3 linked regions of the Homo sapiens genome follow. The protein of the gene in region 2 interacts with the protein of the main gene of each other region in a pairwise test. Each region holds a gene or a part of one and is shown on either strand. Other genes may lie near its edges.

Region 1 (3,649 bases), on a different chromosome or scaffold from region 2:
TGTCTCTACTAAAATGCAAAAAATTAGCTGGGCATGGTGGCAGGCACCTGTAGTCCCAGCTGCTTGGAAGACTGAGGCAGGAGGATTGTTTGAACCCAGGAGGCGAAGTTGCAGTGAACCGAGATTGTGCCACTGCACTCCAGCCTGGGCAATAGAGCAAGACTCCATCTCCAAAAAAGTAAAAAGCAAAAAAATATATAAATATCTTCATTTACTTGAAAAGAAGGCTTGCATCCAAACTCTGCCTGTTGTACTCTTCCATTTGTTTTGTGTGATCCTCTGCAATAGCCCAGGAAAAGTCTGTGCTTTCTCTATGTGATGCCCTTCAGGTTTTTGAAGACAGTTAACGCTTTCTGTCTTTCTTTAGCCTTTTCTCCAGGAGACACATATTGAATTTTATCTACTAGTTCCCAGATGCGTACCTCTGGACACTCATTCATATTTGTTAATGCTGAGAATTTTTTTTTTAAAGTAATCTGGGCATCACACAAACTCTTCTTTGAACCCTGCTGGTTCCCAGCAGTCATAGTCTGAGCATTGAGGCTAAATACTCAAAAGACATTCCTTTTAGTTTTTTTCTTCTGGATTTATGTAGATTGGTAGGCAACTAAGTGATAAATATTTTCCAGGATCTATCACACACACACACACACACACACACACACACCCCTCACTTTTAAGAATTAGTCCAGTTACCTGTTTGAATGTTCCTGACATCTCCACATTCTCTATGAATTCTCCAAGACTACAGAGCCTAGGGTGTGGAGGTGCGTGGGGAGGACTTATGTTTAACTGCTAACATAGAGCAAACCCCCTCAAAGTATGAACTGTTAGATAAACTGTGCATCTCTTCTGAGATGTGTTTGGAGAGAGATCTTGGCCTCCAGGTGGAGGAGGCTTGGAACAGCTGTTTCCCAGGGTCACTGCCGGGGAGCATCTGCTTAAGGCAACATCTCTGAAGTACCTGTTCTCTAGTTTAGCCACCTAGTATGTTTGTGCTGTTCTGTCGAAGAACATTTGCCTTTTGTTGTTCATTGGAAACAGCATAAAGATGAGATCAGCAGATTTTTATTTCTCTTCTGACACCACGGCCAGCCAATCAGCCAATATTTTTGTTGGATTCCTTTGGATTCCTTCCCTCCTTCCATCTCTCCCTCCCTTTCTTCCTTTCCTGGCCAAAAAAAAAAAAAAATCTTTCCTTTAACAACCAAAGAATGATGTAATTGTGATATATGTAGCTTTATGGTCAGACATGACATACTACGGAGGGGCCCTTGAAGTCCAGAGGTACCCTCCTACTCCTCCTTCACTCTCTTCAGTAGTAAGATGCTTTACGGGCCACAGCTGAGCAGCCTAGCACAAAGTCAGGAACATGGCTCTGGTGCCAGGCTGCCTGGGTTCCAATCCTGGCTCTTCCACTGATCGGCTGTGTGCCTTTGACCACATCACCTAACTTCTCTGTGCTGTAGTTACCTCAGGCTTAAAATGAGGGCAGGATTAGTACCATTCCCAAGGGTTTTTATAAAAATTAAATGGATTAATTCATATACAATGATTAAAACAGCATCTGACACAAGATCATTGCTCAATAAAAAGCTTATAAGGTTTTAATTGAATGAATTATTTTATGTAATTCAACGAAAAGGGAAACTATATAGGAATTATCGTATTATGACAAAAAGCATCAATGTGAAGACTTGTTTGGAGTGTTGGGTCACAAGATTAATTCAAAACAGAGTTTTGTGCTGGGGAGAAAACTTTCATGACAAAAAAATCACGTCATTAAAGAACAAAAAATCACATTAAAAATTCACATCTAATAATATGAGAGTGGGGCTTTAGGAAAACATTGGCAATTTATTTTTATCCTTTTTTGAGTGTGTGTGCGATGCACGCATGCCAGGGGGGTGTATTATATTATTCAAACAAAACTACAAAAAATATAGTGAACTTTAAAAAATAATGCTTAAAAGAATAAAAAAAATAAGAATACCTGTCTACTTACCACCCAACTTAAAGAACTTAAAGAAACTTCAAAGAACACTATCGTATCTTTAGAGCTTCCTGGGTGCCCACCCCAGGAGCCCTCTCTCCTGTTGAGATAAACGTATCATACATTTTGGGCTAATCATCTTCTTGCTTTTTCTCATGGTTTTCCAATATACGGATGTAATGTTAGACATCATATTGTTTAGATTGATCTGTTTTTTAACTGTACCGTGATTTGCACTGATTTTAGTTATCAATATATTGGAATTCACTTCTAGCATCTTATTTTGTTCTTTGTTTCATTTTTTTCTATGTTTCGCTTTTTTCCCCCTCTCTTTTTTCGTATTGAGATCTTTTATTTTTTCATTTCCTTTGGTTTCATTTTCCCCCTTCCACTGGTTTGGAAGTTGTAGACTCTATTAAATCTCGACTTACATGTTTAACAAAGTATAAAGTTGGCCAGTGTTTGTCCTTCCTTCCCGTCAGCATAAGGACCTTGGAACACTCCCACCTGGATTTTTTGGAATTATACAATTTCATATAGAAAGGACTCTTCACATCAAAGTTGGTAGCTATAGCTTTTGATGTCTGGCTTGTTTAGTTTTTCTCTCTTGACAACACAGTAACCCTCTCTTGAGAATAGCAGAGAGAATAAAAATGTTACTGTTATGGGAAATACAGATCACTGGAGCTGGGTGGGGCCTTAAAGATTACCAGTGTTTTTCAAACTTTTGACCAAGCCAAATGAAAATTAAAGGAACTTTTAAAATAATGCATATTCTCTGGTCCCACATCAGACCCAATAGTCAGAATCTCGGGTGGGACACAGAAATCTGCAGGACTAAAAAGTTCCCTGGGTGATCATGATGCACAGCCAGTTTTGTAACCTATTTCTCCATGCTGACCCAAAATGGTTTAATCAAGCTGACTCCATAAGCAAAATTATAGATGCCATATAGACTTAGCAAAAAGCCATGGAAAAGAGAGAGGGAGCACAGTTTTTTCAAATGAGAAAATAAGCATCTCTAGAGATGAATATCTTCAATTTGCATTTGGGAAAATGTTTGAGCACATACGCAAAAATAAATATACAAAGAGTGGCAGCAAAAGTAGTCTACAGGCAAGGCATCCACAGTCCTCCTCTGCTGCTCTTTGGCTCGCCGTGCCAGGAATGCCTTCTCACCTCCTAATCTGAGGTCTGCTTTTCTTTCTAAGCTTAGTGCATACTCTGCCTTCTCCACTGGAGCTCTCCCATCTCTTCCACCACAGTGTCCATTTCCTCCTCTCAACTCCTGTAGCACTTTCTACCTATAGCATTCACGTGGCACTGGGCACATTACCTGCTTAATTCCTCTCTAGCATTTCCTGAGAACTCTGGGTCAGGCAGTGTGCTCAGGGCTTTACATGCACTTCCCCTGTAAAACTCACAGCCTTACAAAGTTGCTACTTTTATTATTATCCTAGACTAACATACAATAAATTTGAAGTTTAGAGTAGCTCAACAGTTTGTCCTAGGTGCACAAGCCAAAAAATAGAAGTTATCATTTGAACTCAGGCCTGACTTCCCCATGCAAACTCTTGAGCATTGAGCTATACTAGAGGTAGTTTTTAATACATACGTCTTGTGTCTCAGGTGTGTTCTAAGCTCCCTAAGCAGGTA
Region 2 (4,126 bases):
AAATCTAAAAATGCAAAGGTCTCTACATCTTATCAACACACCTCAAGAAAAAAAAATGAAAATCTAATTTTCCTTACGTCTTGTAATTAAGGGATGCCATAACAACAAGTAAGATATGGTAAGGATATTTTTACAATTAAAAGAGAAAAAAACAAAGTAAGTACACCCACCTCCAATTACTTACCAAACACTGCTCGGGCCATATTGCCAGTATAAATTAGCCTTCCATCTTCTGATTTGTCAGATGGCGTATTTAAGAATCGAACATATCCTTCCCAATAAACAGGGATCTATTGAAACAGGGATCATTATGGTCAACTAACCTTCTTAAATTTTTTTAAGTTTTTTTTTTTGAGACAGAGTCTTGCTCTGTCTCCCAGACTGGAGGGCAGTGGTGCGATCTCAGCTCACCATTGCAACCTCTGCTTCCCGGGTTCAAGCAATTCTCCTGCCTCAGTCTCCTGAGTAGCTGGGATTACAGGTGCCCACCACCACACCCGGCTAATTTCTGTATTTTTATTAGAGACGGGGTTTCACCATGTTGGCCAGACTGGTCTTGAACTCTTGACCTCAAGTGATCTGCCACCTTGGCCTCCCAAAGTGCTGGGATTACAGGCATGAGCCACCATGCCCAGCTTAAGTTTATTTTTAAAATTGTAATGCAGGTGCAGTGGCTCATGCCTGTAATCCCAGCACTTTGGGAGGCCGAGGGGGGCGGATCACTTGAGGTCAGGAGTTCAAGACCAGCCTGGCCAACATGGTGAAACCCCGTCTCTACTAAAAATGCAAACAATTAGCCGGGCATGGTGTCTGGCGCCTGTAATCCAGCTACTCCGGAGGCTGAGGCAGAAGAATCGCTTGAACCTGGGAGGCGGAGATTGCAGTGGTCCGAGATCACACCACTGTACTCCAACCTGGGCAACAGAGCACGACTCCGTCTCAAAAAAATAAAATAAAATTGTAATGAAAAGAACTTGTCACATGAGGTGACATAAGGAATTCTCCCAAATAATCTACAGAGTTAAAGAAATAAATTGGCTGACAGAATGGCTTGCCTTAATTCTAGTCACAAGTAGAAAACTGCAGAGCTGGAGTTTGTTAGCTTAGCATCCCAGCTCTCAGGTTTCTAGGTCTAGTGTGACCTTGAACAAGTAAAAATAGTAACAGTTTCTTCTACTCCACTGTTAATGACGACATCATTTCCATTCTATTTAAATGCAACACCTTTTCAAAAAATAAATACATTTAGCTGGTGTAATGGAACACGTCTATAGCCCCAGCTACTGGGGAGGCTGAGGTGGATCACTTGAGCCCAGGAGTTTAAGGCCAGCCTGGGCAACATGGCAAGACCCCATCTCTAAGAAATAAAATTTAATTTTACTAAAATAATTTAAGTAAAATACTCCGCAAACTCACATTATATTTAAAGTCCAGGCCTTTTACAAATACTGCTAAAATATTTATATGATAGTATTAAAGAGATCAAATCTTTCTCTAAAGACCTTGTAAATACCGTGTATCCCCTGGTCCTCTTATTTCTTGACAAGAAATAAAATTTGGCTGGGCACAGCGGCTCACGCCTGTAATCCCAACCCTTTGACAGGCCGAGGCAGGAGGATGATTTGAGGTCAGGAGTTTAAGACGAGCCTGGCCAACACGGTGAAACCCCGTCTCTACTAAAAATACAAAAAAAAAATCAGCCGGGGTGTGGTGGAGCGCGCCTGTAATCCCAACTACTGGGGAGGCTGAGGCAGGAGAATCGCTTGAACCCGGAAGGCGGAGGTTGCAGTGAGCCAAGATCACGTCACTGCACTCCAACCAGGGTGACAGAGCGAGACTTCACCTCCAAAAAAAAAGAAATAAAATTTACTTGAAATCCTACATCAAATTTCAAGGGAACAGAAGCGTTCCCCATACATCTGAAAATGAGTTTCACAGTGTATACACTTCAAAATGTAAAAGGCATGCCTAATTCCTCAATGCTGAAATGTAATTAGATTCCAATTTCCATTTTAAGCATTTCTTCCAAGTTTTAACCAGGTTTGCCAATCCTGATATTTTACAGAGTAGAATTAGAAGACAATTTATTCAGATCAAAATAAAAGAATTAACATCTGCATCCCCCTTTTCCCAGGGACCAAAGTAATTCTTAAAAGTACAGCCACCTCATAAAAGTAGAACAAGCTCAAAGTCAGGTTAACCTGGCTCTTTCGGTTCTATTTCCAGGTGCTGCATCCAATTTTTTGCAAATTAACACTTCTAAGCTTCTACTCAAGGGCAGAAAAGGAACTACATATAGTTGTCACCACAAACCCTCTGGATTTGGAACTACCATAAAAGTAAGCACTTTCCAGCCGTTCTCCTGGACTCGCGGAGGCTGAGGACCCCGGGGCCCTCGGCCTGCTACTTCTGCAAGCCCCGCAGAGGGGGCTCCTCCCGCGCTCCAGCCACGGACACCTGGGAGAGGTCGCGAAGAGCCGCTGGGGCTCCCCAGGCCCGACACGACGCCCGCCCTCCCCGCCTCACTTGGGACACCAGACCTCGGACGCCCTACCTGCGCTCGACCCGGACGCCGGAGAAGGCGCGCGGCTCCCGAAGGCCCCGTACTCCAGCCGGCTACCGGCCCCGAAGGCCCGCTGCTGGAGGACGCCCGGGAGACAGAGGCCCGGGGACCTCGGAGCGCGGCGGCCGCACACAATGCAGTCCTCCTTCCGCAGAGAGGCAGTTCGACCGCCCACGGGCTGCCCAACGCCAGAAACAGCATCACGCGGGTGACGAGCGGCTGCGGACGCCCCAGCTGCACGAGTCCACGACTGCGAGACACGGCTTCCCACCCGACTGCCGCACAAGTGGCGCATGCCCAGCCCGGGACGCCTGACTGGCAGCTGGGCTGCCTGCGCGTGCGCAGAATCTGCCGCCCGCCTGCCGCCCGCCTGCCGCCCGCCTGCCGCCCGCCTGCCGCCCGCCTGCCGCCCGCCTGCCGCCCGCCTGCCGCCTTCCCGGCCGCGCGCGTTATCCGCCAGCTGAGCTGGGAGCCCGCCGCTCTGTCCTTGGCTCAGCGGCTCCTCCTTCCTAGAATTTTACCTTCTTTATAACAGTGTGGAGGGGCAGAGGGCTGTACGAGAATGACAATGCCCAGAAGCCAGGGTTAAATATTTTTTTTTCTCGTGGACGACATCACTAAAAACTGTTTCCTTTGCGGAAAATGATTCTAGCCTGTTGGCACAGAAGAAAGAATATACGATTTGAACAAAAATGAGTGATAACTTAATTGAATCATCGGGTTGGAGGAAAATAAATGGAATTGTTCATGTAATATTGATAGGTGTTACCAGATTTGTCTTCGGAAATCATTCACATCCATATACACATTGATTCATTACTTGTTAAAGAGGTACTGAATCTATTGCCAGGACTGAGCTAGGAGCAGAGGATACAAAATACTAGATTAAACTGGGAATCCACAGTGCTTAAACAGTGGAGGAAAATACCTGAAAATTGGCTAGAATATAATGTAATACAATTGAGACACCGCAATATACAAAATGTGGCTGGCCGTGGTGGCTTACACCTGTAATCCCAGCGCTTTGGGAGGTTTAGGCAGGAAGATCTCTTGAGGCCAGGAGTTTGAGACCAGCCTGAGCAATACAGGGAGACCCCGTCTCTACAAAAAAAAAAAAAAAAAAAAAACCTAAAACAAAAATAAGCCACACATGGTAAGTGTGTGCCTGTGGTCCCAGCTACCCAGGAGGCTGACATGGTAGGATTGCTTGAGCCCAAAGTCGAGGCTTCAGTGAGCCAAGACCACACTACTGCACTCCAGCCTGGACCACAAAGTGACACCGTGTCTCAAAAAAAAGAACAAACAAATGCCACAGAAGTACAAAGAAGAACATGATTAATTTTGCCTCAGAATGTCTTCAGACTGGCTTCACATTTAGCTCAGTCTTGAAGGATGAGCATCTTAGTAATAGAAACACACTTTTGTTTACCACTGCAGAACTATACATGTTTTTGATTTGACATGTTATTTGCACCGGAGAGGAACAAATTCATAGTCTAAAATAATGTGTGGCCAGGGGCGGGAGCTCACGCCTGCAATTCCAATACTACGTGGAGGCCCAGG
Region 3 (3,649 bases), on a different chromosome or scaffold from region 2:
GGCCACCTTCCAATAAACCATTGATTGACAGGAACAATCCCTTGGTTGCTGAGACAGGAACAGTCCCTGAGCAGGCCTGCACTCTCCCCCTTCCCAGGTACCGGCTGGTGGTGGGGGGTCTCAGCACTGTGATCCTCTGGGCAAGACCGATTAGAAATATCTTCCTCTGCCTCATCACAAATCAGACTTTGAAGACATGGCCTTCTCTCCAAATGCTCCTGTGTGTGTGGCGGTTGGGGCCTCAGGGTGGTGGGAATGACAGGTGGAAGGGAGCCAATGAGCACCTACTGTGTGCCAGACACTGGTGCTTCACACCGCCACCGGCTCCCAATACTGATTCTGCTCCACGGAGCTATTTCTAGACCTCAGTGTCTTTTCCTTATAGTAAACATATCCCAGTTACGTCTGCGTAATGATGCCTCACATGTACGTAGCACCCTTTGCTTTTCTAAGTACTTTATACCTGTTACTGCCTTTAACCCTCACAACGACTTCATGTTACAGAAGAGGGAACTGAGGCAGGGACAGATGGTTGTGCAATAGTTATTGGTTGAGCTGGAACCTTGGTCTCCCCCTTCTGCTGTCCATATCACCCACAGCACCCTGCTCGACCGTCTCGTCGAACAGCTTTCTGGTGGTGGCAGTGCCCAGTCGTTCCCACTTGAGTCTTTGAGTTCCTTCAAGATGGAGATGGCTCCTTCTCTTTCTTCCCTCTTGCCTACAGTGCTCAATACTGCATATACAGCAAGTGCTCAATATGTGCTTATTGGATTCTTCTTTGGCACAGACCTCCTTGTCCATCAGTGAGGGGAGCCATAAAATCCTGGTCTCCAGGTTGTTATCAGGGACCCCTCAGGGCTTAACCTTTATTAATGCAAGAAATTGTCCTTCAAAGTTCTAGCTGAATAGATTAAAGAAACCCAGGGCAACAACTCACTTGTGCACTCAGCCATTGCACCAAAGCTGGATGGCAGTTCTCCTGGAGATCTAAGTTGTCTTGCTGGGGCAGGGACGGAGAACACACGGGAGGGAAGCTCAGTCACTCCTCTCCCTGCCCCCAGGCCTCCTCCACTCCTGGGAAGGAGCAGGCTGGCTCAGGTGTGGCAGCAAATAAGAACAGTAATGCTGTTGTGATTTTGGAGTCCTTGGCTGTGCGTGAGTTCACCCCATCCTCACAGCCATGCTCCCTGCAAAATTGGGCAGGGCAGGAATTAGTCTCCGGTGTTTTACCGGAGACATCAACTCATTTCCCAAGGTCGTGCATAGATGTCTCCTTGGCATTCCTGGGCCCATGCTGAAAAGCAACTGTCCCTCAATCCTTACACAAATTCACAGCAGCCCTGCTGGCGTTTGCTCACTGTCTGCTCCCTGCCCAGTCCTGCAGTTTGTGAATCTGGCGTTCCACGGAGATGGAGGTCCGCAGTGTGCCCATGGAGTTCTCCATCTGAATGGGTTCTGACCTGCAGCCCCCTTTCTGGCACACTCCCTGGTACACCTCCCAAGACTTCTTTCGGAAGCGCTTGCCCACGATCACGTACACCAGTGGGTTGAGGCAGCTGTTGCTGTAGGCCATGAAGGAGGCGATCTGTGTGATTACATCGATGATGCGCTCGTCCTGGCAGCTGGAGAGGATGCCGAGGCGATGCAGCGTATCCAGGAAGGTGCTGATCTGGAAGGGCAGCCAGCAGATGATGAATAGCAGCAGCACAACCAGGACTAGCACCGTGGCCCTCCTCTCTGTCTGGATCTCCTTGAACTTCTGCATCTCGTTGTTCCGCAGCACCTGCATGATCTGCATCGTGCAGAAGGTGATGACACTCAGGGGCAGCAGGAAGCCCACGACATTCAGGAGCATGTTGGTGAACACTTCCCAGATGAGGGATGGGTAGCTGATGACACAAGCGGTGACGTTGTGGCCCTCATCGCTGTACTCCTTCATGGTCCGGAACACCAGCATGGGTGAGCTCAGGAGCAGCGTACACCCCCAGATCACCAAGCTGTAGAGCTTGGCCCAGCGCACGCCGCGCATCCGGCCCATGGACATGGTTTTCACCAGGGCCAGGTAGCGGTCGATGCTCACCAGCATCAGGAAACAGATGCTGCTGTACAGGTTCATGGAGATAATGGCATTCACCACGCGGCAGAGCGTCTCCCCAAAGAGCCAGTCGAAGTTGTTGGAGATGGTGATGGCCCAGAAGGGCAGCCCGCAGGCCAGGATCAGGTCTGCTGCGGCCAGGTTCCCCAGGTAGATCTCTGCCACCGTGCAGCTGCTCTTGTGCAGGCAGAAGACGCTGAGGACAAAGATGTTCTCTAGGGTGGCCAGCACGAACAGCACCCAGAGGAAGGGGGGCTGGATGGTGTTGAGCCAGCCCAGCCACTCCACTTGGGGGCATTTGCTCTGGGCAAAGGTCCCGTTAAGAGTGGGCCCTTGCAAGGTGACATTGAGCATGTCGGCGCTGAAAGAAAGTGGAAAAGAGGCTGTTACCCCTCAGGGTCACAAGGGAAGGACAAAAACTGGTCCAGAAGGAGACAGGGGTTAAGGACAACCAGCCAGGGCAAGGAGAAGCCGAGGTGGAGCTCAGGCTGTTTTCTGCAGCCCGCGCTCCAGTGCACCTGACTCCCCTGGGTCTTACAGAGCCCCCTCTGATCCTTGGATCTAAACGGGGGCCTCATGTTCTTCATCTCGAGGCTCCACTGGGATATTTCCTTGGCCAGTATCCACCAACAGCACTAACAATCTCAAGTGTTGGACCCTTGACCTCCTTGAAGCTTCCGTGATGGGAGGATTCACATTCCTTCCTTATCAACCGGGGCCCTCCCAAGGGAGTTGGTCACCTTTGAGCCTCTCAAAGCCGTGTGGTGGGTGAGTTAATTTATTAAAAGAGAAAAATGATATCATTCCAGACCTGGAGATTCCAGTCTGGCTTGGAGACCATGGCCAGCCCATCTGCCTAGTTTCTGTCTTCCTGGACAGTCTGTGGCATCGTATTTCCGTACCTTCTATCAGCAAAGCACTGAAGATGATTGGAGGATACAGATGGCGAGGGAGGGTGGGGACTTTGCAGCCAGATAGTCCTACTGGGTTCACATCCTGGCTGCCTTACTTATAAGCCGTGTGACGCTGGGGAAGTTACTTAACGTCCTTGAACCACAATGACCTCACCTGTAAAATGGGAGTTAAAAAAACTACCTCTCAGGGTTGTGATAGGGATCAGAGACAATGTGCAAAATGCCCCAAGCACTGCACTAGGCTCAATAAACATTAGTAATTAACAATTCTTGCAAACCCATTAAAATAACCAGTGGTAAACTCCAACACCACCGTTTGTTGGTGACCTCATCTTTAACCCACTGGCTCCTCTTTCATTCTTAGGCAAGACTCACAGACCATAGGGCAGGCACCTTTCTAGACTTGTTGCTGTAATTCATCTCTACCTTCAGCAGAGGCGTGGGGCTTGGACAGCCATGAGTTCCACTCCTAGCTGTGTGGTCTTGGGCAAAATGCTTGACCTCTCTGAGCTTCTATTTTGCCTTCTTTGGAGTAGGGTATTGCTCTCATCCTGAATCGCTTTGCATTTCTTTTTTCATGGCTGTTGCAACATTCAAGCTGAAGAGTGGATGCGAAGACACACTGAAAAGTCCAAAGCAC

The links.
Region 1: the proteins of TMEM70 (region 2) and LPAR3 interact in binary tests that used the Homo sapiens proteins (3 or more experiments, as listed by UniProt).
Region 3: the proteins of TMEM70 (region 2) and BDKRB2 interact in a two-hybrid assay, tested with the Homo sapiens proteins (one large-scale study listed by BioGRID and IntAct).

The regions. Positions count from the first base shown.
Region 1 is NC_000001.11:84,816,626-84,820,274, forward strand, and holds part of LPAR3 (lysophosphatidic acid receptor 3), read right to left. Parts: intron 1-3,649. UniProt on the Homo sapiens protein: Receptor for lysophosphatidic acid (LPA), a mediator of diverse cellular activities. May play a role in the development of ovarian cancer. Seems to be coupled to the G(i)/G(o) and G(q) families of heteromeric G proteins.
Region 2 is NC_000008.11:73,974,920-73,979,045, reverse strand, and holds the start of TMEM70 (transmembrane protein 70, mitochondrial), read right to left. Parts: upstream 2,852-4,126; 5' UTR 2,765-2,851; coding exon 2,555-2,764; intron 291-2,554; coding exon 185-290; coding exon of another isoform or gene 177-184; exon of another isoform or gene 171-176; intron 1-170. UniProt on the Homo sapiens protein: Scaffold protein that participates in the c-ring assembly of mitochondrial ATP synthase (F(1)F(0) ATP synthase or complex V) by facilitating the membrane insertion and oligomer formation of the subunit c/ATP5MC1 through its interaction.
Region 3 is NC_000014.9:96,239,210-96,242,858, reverse strand, and holds part of BDKRB2 (B2 bradykinin receptor), read right to left. Parts: intron 2,457-3,649; coding exon 1,355-2,456; 3' UTR 1-1,354. UniProt on the Homo sapiens protein: Receptor for bradykinin. It is associated with G proteins that activate a phosphatidylinositol-calcium second messenger system.